2 linked regions of the Homo sapiens genome follow. The protein of the gene in region 1 purifies or fractionates together with the protein of each later gene. This does not show direct contact. Each region holds a gene or a part of one and is shown in the gene's direction. Other genes may lie near its edges.

Region 1 (3,648 bases):
GTGCTGATGGGCTGGGAAGTCCTGCGTGAGCCCTGAAGGTGGCTCTGAGGGGCTTCCCTCATCCCTTTGCTCCCAGGCGGGCCCCACGGGGTGCAGGTTCTCAGATGACTCTCTGAGGTGTGTGAATAAGGGTCTCTGTTCAGGCGCGTCCCCACAGGAGATGAGACCACAGAACGCAGCCCTGAGTTTGAAGCATCCCAGAAGGTTCTTTCTCTCTGACCCGCACACCCACCACTGTTCTGGGTGCTCACAAAACCCACCATTGCTTCTGGTAATTTCTCAGCTGCTCCTCCTGTCCAGCGACCCCTGCTGCAGAGGCCCAGGGGAAACACAGACCAGGCCTGTGAGAAGCTCCTGTTTCAGACAAAGAAATGGTGTCAGCGATAAAACTGGAAACTGTTCCCAGCTCGACACCTGACCTGGCCCTTCCACCCCCAGGATCCTGCCCCCAGGCGGCCCTTCCACCCCCAGGATCCTGCCCCCACGCGGCCCAGCCCCCACCAGGATCCTGCCCCTGCATCCTCCGCTGGGTTGGCATCTGCATTTTTGGTGCCTTCCAGGGAAAGGGGTGAGTGGGTGGGGCCTGAGGCCCTTAAGGTCCTCAGTGGAGGGAGTGCCCCTGGATTTTTTTCTGGCTGTTTTGGGGGAATTTGTGGGATCTCAGGGTCAGCAGCGGCCACACTCAGGACCCCACGATTACAGAGCCACACTTTGGCCATGACTGGCGCTGAGAACTCCAGATCTGAGAGGGCTTCGTGAGTCCCAGGGTTGGGACACCTACCTGTGTCCTCGGCACGGACCCTCCCACCGGCTCTTGTGTCTGTGGGCAGAGGCCATGTTCAGCTCTCAGTGCAGTGCTGACGGCCCACCTGGTGTCCAGGCCCCTTTGGGAAGCAGCTTTCATGCCCTGAGTCCAGCACCTCAGCCTTGAGTCCTTCAGGGCCTGACTGGGTCTTACCGAAGCCCATGCATGGTAGGGAGGTGGCCTCGGCAGCCCTGCCCTGTGGCGTAGCCCTGCGTCCCCAAGCCCTGCCTGGGTGGCACCCCTCAGTCTTCTCAACCCCATGGCCCAGCCGCCTACTCTGGGGGCGGGCGCCTTGCAAAGTCCAGAGGGCGTCCCTGCGCCCTGACACCGGTGCCCCCACCACTGCCTCAGCCCTGCACACTGGCAGTCCCCTCCCCTGGCCGGGGCCAGGCCCAGGGCTCCTGGGAAGAGCATCCTGAGGCGCCCCCAGGGCCACCACGCACCCTCCCCAGCCTAAAGCTCCATCTAAGGTCAGAGGCTCTGCAGTGGGGAGGGAGCGGCTGTCGCACGACTGCTGTGGACCCTCCCAGAGGAAGGCAGCACGTCACAGACCCTGGGGAGTGCGTGATCCCGAGGTGTCCTCCAGAGCTGCAGAGCGGGCGTCCACAGGAGGGACAGTGGAACTGCGGCGGGGAGGGGACCCGGAATAGGCTCTGATGCTGCCAGTCACACACTGAGCCTCCTAGGCCTGGAGCCCCTGGCACCCAGCTCAGCTCCCACCCTGGGCTCTGCGTGCTGCTGGCTTTATTTGGCTTAGGGGGTCCTTGGCCCAATGATGGCAGTGGGCAAGGCCTCGCTTGGCTCCACTCTGCCCGGGGCTGGACATGCGTGCCTGCGGGGCAGCTGGCTCCAAGGGTCTGAGGGGCCTCACGCCCAGCCCCAGGAGGGCCTGCCCATCTCAGCCCTCGCCACGTCCTGGTGCTCATTGGTACGGCGGGGTTTCCTGGGCTGCACCCGGCTCAGCTGGGACATGGCCCGGGTGACACCTTTCTCCTCTCCTTCCTCCATAGCAACATGGCTGACAAGGCCAAGCCTGCCAAAGCTGCCAACAGGACGCCCCCCAAGTCCCCGGGGGACCCCTCGAAGGACCGGGCAGCCAAGAGGCTGTCGCTGGAATCGGAGGGTGCTGGTGAGGGGGCAGCCGCATCCCCTGAGCTCAGTGCCCTGGAGGAGGCCTTCCGGCGCTTTGCCGTGCACGGGGACGCCAGGGCCACCGGGAGGGAGATGCACGGCAAGAACTGGTCGAAGCTGTGCAAGGACTGCCAGGTGATCGACGGCAGGAACGTGACCGTCACTGACGTGGACATCGTCTTCAGCAAGATCAAGTGAGTGCGCTGGGCTCACGGGCCGAGGGACCTGACTTACGGGGGTCTGCGGCCCTGAGCCCCTGGGTGGGTTCTGTGGGGAGCGGGCCATGGGGAGTGGAGGGGGTTGTGCTTCAAGACCCCGCCCTTCTCAGAAGCAGCCCTGACATGGGAGCCTGAACGTGCCATCTGGGCCCCCAGGGAGCAGGGGTCCGGGCATTGCCGGACTTCTCGGTGCCGAGGCCTGAGTGGCAGCCCTGGCTCCTCTCAGCCCCGTGGGTGTGTAGGGTTTCGGCATGGGAGGTGGCCTATGAGGGGATGTCTGGCCTCAGAGCAGACTCGGGGTGAATGCTGCTCCCCGGAGTCAGGGAGCTGTGACTGGGATCACTGGGCTTCCCCAGGAGTGGGGGCAGTGGCTGCCTGGAGCCTGGAGGGGCAGGTGGCTGCTGGCGGGCAGAGCTCCTGACCCTCTGTGGGCTGGCTCAGCGGCTGAGTCTCAGAGGTTGGATGCTTGTGTCCCCATGCATGGAGCTGGCCATTCGGGTGTCCCCCAGCCCCTCCCAAAGCCTTTGTGCTGCTGTATTTCTGCCCCAGGATTCCCACGGGCGGCAAAATGGCAAAGGGCACCAAGGAGGCGGCTCCGGCCACCACCTTGAAACCGCATCGTGCCGTTTGCTTTTTCTGCGTCGTGTGCACGTGTGCGCGTTTCTGTGTGCACGTGTGTGCGTTTCCGCGTCGTGTGTGCACGTGTGCGCGTTTCTGCGTGTGCACGTGTGCGCGTTTCTGCGTCGTGTGTGCGTTTCTGTGTGCACGTGTGCGCGTTTCTGCGTCGTGTGCGCGCGTGCGTTTCTGCGTCGTGTATGCGCGCGTGCGCGTTTCTGCGTCGTGTGTGCATGTTTCTGCGTCGTGTGTGCGCGTTTCTGTGTCGTGTGTGCACGTGTGCGCATGTGTGCATGTGTTTCTGCATGTGCACGTGCGTTTCTGTGTCATGTGTGCACACGTCTGTTGCCGTGTCACGCATTGTCTGTTTTCTCCTGGATGAATGCTGGGAAGCACACTGAGGCACCCTCACACGCCCCAGCACATTTCACCTCATGTCCCGACACCCCACCATGATCGCACCCGAGAAAAGCAGCGGTTCTCCCTGAGCCCCGTCCTGTCCGCCTGTGTGGCAATGGCTTTATTTCGGTGGTTTGCACCTGCGTCCTCCTGTGGCCGATGTATTTCATTCCTACATTGCCGCAAACTCATCACCTCTTTCATCTCAGAGCTCCTGCACCTTCCCCCTCTGCGGCCTTGGCTTTGCAAGGGGCCGGGCCGTGGGTCAGATGCCCCTGTGTGGAAGGCTGTGGGGCCCACCTCTGCGGCGCCAGCGCCCCATCTACCAGCTCTGGGTGGGCGCCGTGACCTTTGCAGCTGTTCCGTCTCTGCTGTGCTCCGTGGCGATGTCACATGTGTCTCCCGGGTCACACATCCCCTGGGTCTTGGGTGTCTCCTGGGTCGTGCATGTTCCTAGACTGCGTGTCCTGCTGAGCTTCC
Region 2 (3,648 bases), on another chromosome or scaffold:
TTGTTACCCAGGCTGGAGTGCAATGGCACGATCTCGGCTCACTGCGACCGCCGCCTCCCAGGTTCAAGCAATTCTCCTGCCTCAGCCTCCCTACTAGCTGAGATTACAGGTGCCCACCACCATGCCCAGCTAATTTTTTGTATTTTTAGTAGAGACGGGGTTTGACTCTGTTGGCCAGGCTGGTCTCAAACTGCTGACCTCAGGCTATCCACTTGCCTGAGTCTCCCAAAGTGCTGGGATTACAGGAATGAGCCACCGTGCCCGGCTCATCCCGGTATAGTTTTTACTAGTTAAGATTGTATCCTGACTTCTTACATTCCATGTTATAACATGGACATTTTATGACACCATTAAAAACACTTCTTAGACATTATGAATGTATTTTATATAGATTGACACTGTTTCAGATGCTTTCAGACACTGGGAGTATGGTGGTGAATAAAATAGCCCTTGCCAACAAAGGGAGACAGATTCACTCATATAATTACAAAACTGAGGGCTCTGGAAGGAAATCCTGGGTACTCCACTGAGGAATTTGCTCTAGACTTAGCAGCGAAGTGGAGTCAGGAAGGCCTCCCTAAGGAAGTCGTGTTTGCTCTCTGAAGCCTAAGTATGGCATCACCACAGCCCAGCCTGTTCTCCAATGAATGGCCCGCCCATGTTGGCCGTGTTGGTTTTAGATCTTGGGTCTAAAAGTTTGAGCCTGGGAGATCCGAACATGATTTTAATATGCAAAGAGGGTTCCAAGACCAAGGCAGTGCTTTGCAAAGACAACTTTGGAAATATAAGACTAAACAGCAGCGTACTTTACATGGTTCCAAACTTTGCTACTTATTCTCTCTGACAGCAAGACATGGGATCCATCTGGTGTTTGTACCACAACCCTCCCACATGCACTCTTGTCACACTGTGGGATCCTCTGGGTAGTGGATCCTGGAAGCAGACAGGTTGGGCTCAGCTGGATGCCTCCTGGGTGCCCCTTCCCCAAGTCCCCGGAGTACTGTGCCAGTCCCTTAGCCTGAGGCTGTCTCCCCATCTTTGTAGCCTCACTCTCTATGTGGAAGTAGCCTGCAATGGGCTCCTGGGGGCCGGGAAGGGAAGCATGATTGCAGCCCCTGACCCTGAGAAGATGTTCCAGCTGAGCCGGGCTGAGCTAGCTGTGTTCCACCGGGATGTCCACATGCTCCTGGTGGATCTGGAGCTGCTGCTGGGCATAGCCAAGGTACTTGACACCCCCTGTACCCCCTGCTACCCTCTAGAGCCCTGCTCCAAGAAGGTTGTTCTTTGGGTCAGATAAATGGGACTCTGGGAATCCAGAGTAGGACGAGGGTTTCCACCTGCTTGAGGGTTGAGAGAATTTTCCTATGTGAAGGGGAGGAGGGAGACGGTGCTGAGCAGGGGGACCAGCAGGGAAAAAGGGTTGGGGGTCAGGGGAGCTCTGCTGAGAGCCCTGAGATCAGTGGAGCCTAGGTCTGGAAGCTGTGCTTGAAAAAGGGATTAAGGGGCAGAACCCTGCTGCAGGGCCTCGGGAAGGACAACCAGCGCAGCTTCCAGGCCCTGTACACAGCCAATCAGATGGTGAACGTGTGTGACCCTGCCCAGCCCGAGACCTTCCCAGTGGCCCAGGCCCTGGCCTCCAGGTTCTTTGGCCAACATGGGGGTGAAAGCCAACACACCATTCATGCCACAGGGCACTGCCACATTGATACAGGTAGGACAGCAGCTGGTTGGGCTGGCTGGGGAAGCAGGAGTGCCCTTGAAGACCTGGATGTGCCCTAGAAGCACTGTGTGATGCTCAGCAAGTTCTTGCTCCTCTTGGACCTGCGTTTTCCCCGTCTGTAAAACGGGGCCGGGGGGCTGGACTGTGGGCTCTGCTTGCTTTGGATTCACTTTTTTTTTTTTTGAGACGGAGTCTCACTCTTGTCACCCAGGGTGGAGTGCAATGGTGTGATCTCGGCTCACTGCAACCTCTGCCTCCCGGGTTCAGGCGATTCTCTTGCCTCAGCCTCCTTAGTAGCTGGGATTACAGGCACCCACCACAATGCCTGGTTAATTTTTGTATTTTTAGTAGAGACGGGGTTTCACCACGTTGGCCAGGCTGGTCTCAAACTCCTGACCTCAGGTGATCCGCCTGCCTTGGCCTCCCAAAGTGCTGGGATTACAGGCATGACCCACCGTGCCCAGCCTCATTTATTCTTTCAACAAAATCTGATGCCTCATGGGGCCCATGCTAGATATTGAGGGTAGGATTACAGAGACAGATTCAGCAGGCAGAGTTGGTGTCACAATGGTGGGGAGTCTGAGGCACTGGAGAGCACAGGAGAGGTACTTACTCCAGCTGGGTTGGGGGATTCCAGAGAGGCTTCCTGGACAAGTTTGCAGTGTCTGAGTTTTACGGGAAATCCACATTTTTAACAAGCTCCTGAAGGTATTGATTCTGATGCAGCCGAAGTTTTGGGATCACAGAACAAGGGCTTTCTCTGCTGTGCCAAGATGTAGGGTAAGGTGTGAGAGGTTCTGGGCTGGTAAGGGAGGAACTGCAGCCTGGGAGTCAGGAGAGGCTGTAGCACCTCTGGTAGGACAGCTGGCTCCATCCTGGGAGCCATGCCTCTGTTCCCAGGTATACATCAAGTTTGTGCAGGGGCAGGGTAGTCCCTGCTACTTCTCGTAGGATCCTCTAGGGGATGTCTAATTCCCCAAGAGGACTGAGGCTATTCTGGGGCCTGGAGCCTCCATTTCCTGACCTGTATAATTGGCCTCATAGCACTGCCGCCTCCTTTCCCCAGCCCCTCCTCCCACCTCGCTGGAGTGAAGTGAAGTGACCACTTAGGAGGGACACCACAGGGCTTTCCAGGGTGAAGGGCCTGGGATGGGAGGGGGGCTAGGTGACCCTCTGGAGTCCCAGCCCAGGCCTGGTCAGCCTTGCTGCTCCCTCTGTCCTCCACCTCACTCCCCGTATAGCCTGGCTTTGGCCCTTCAAAGAGACTGTGAGGAAATGTGCCCGGAGCTGGGTGACCGCCCTGCAGCTCATGGAGCGGAACCCTGAGTTCATCTTTGCCTGCTCCCAGGTCAGAGGGACAGCTGTGAGGGAGGAGGGAAGCACGTGGCCCTCCCTGGAGCTCCACAGGCCCTGAAGGCTTCCCAGGCCTGGGGTCAGGGCTGCTCCTCACCCTCAGCCACACACTGAGTCCCATATGCTCAGTCCTGGGTGGGGCCCTTGTCACTCTGGTCCCAGCTCCCTTCAACCTGCCCACAGGCGCAGCAGCTGGAATGGGTGAAGAGCCGCTACCCTGGCCTGTACTCCCGCATCCAGGAGTTTGCGTGCCGTGGGCAGTTTGTGCCTGTGGGGGGCACCTGGGTGGAGATGGTAAGTGCACTGGGCACTCCTCAGCCTTGAACTGTATGACAACAGCCTTCCCTCAGGTAGCCCCGCCCTCCCGGCTTTGCTGGTGAGTTTCCACGGGCCACTCATCCCCGCTGTGTGGCAGGGCTGGCTCATTAGTCCCTGGGATCTCAAGGCCTGGGACTTCAAGGGGGAGGAGAGCCTCCAGCGCTGTGACAAGTTGCATGGCCTAGTCCTGGGCACCCCCTCAGGCAGATGGACAGTCAGGCCTGAAGGACAGGGGCCCTTCCTGAGTTCTGGCTGTA

The links. Proteins that work in one complex are often made in the same cells at the same time.
Region 2: the proteins of TPPP (region 1) and MAN2C1 purify together in Homo sapiens (affinity purification with mass spectrometry; one large-scale study listed by BioGRID and IntAct). This does not show direct contact.

Annotation. Positions count from the first base shown.
Region 1 is NC_000005.10:676,232-679,879, reverse strand, and holds part of TPPP (tubulin polymerization-promoting protein), read left to right. Parts: exon of another isoform or gene 1-371; coding exon of another isoform or gene 372-568; intron 569-1,815; coding exon of another isoform or gene 1,816-1,819; coding exon 1,820-2,130; intron 2,131-3,263; exon of another isoform or gene 3,264-3,648.
Region 2 is NC_000015.10:75,362,062-75,365,709, reverse strand, and holds part of MAN2C1 (alpha-mannosidase 2C1), read left to right. Parts: intron 1-1,044; coding exon 1,045-1,222; intron 1,223-1,521; coding exon 1,522-1,711; intron 1,712-2,961; coding exon 2,962-3,068; intron 3,069-3,256; coding exon 3,257-3,367; intron 3,368-3,648. UniProt on the Homo sapiens protein: Cleaves alpha 1,2-, alpha 1,3-, and alpha 1,6-linked mannose residues on cytoplasmic free oligosaccharides generated by N-glycoprotein degradation pathways.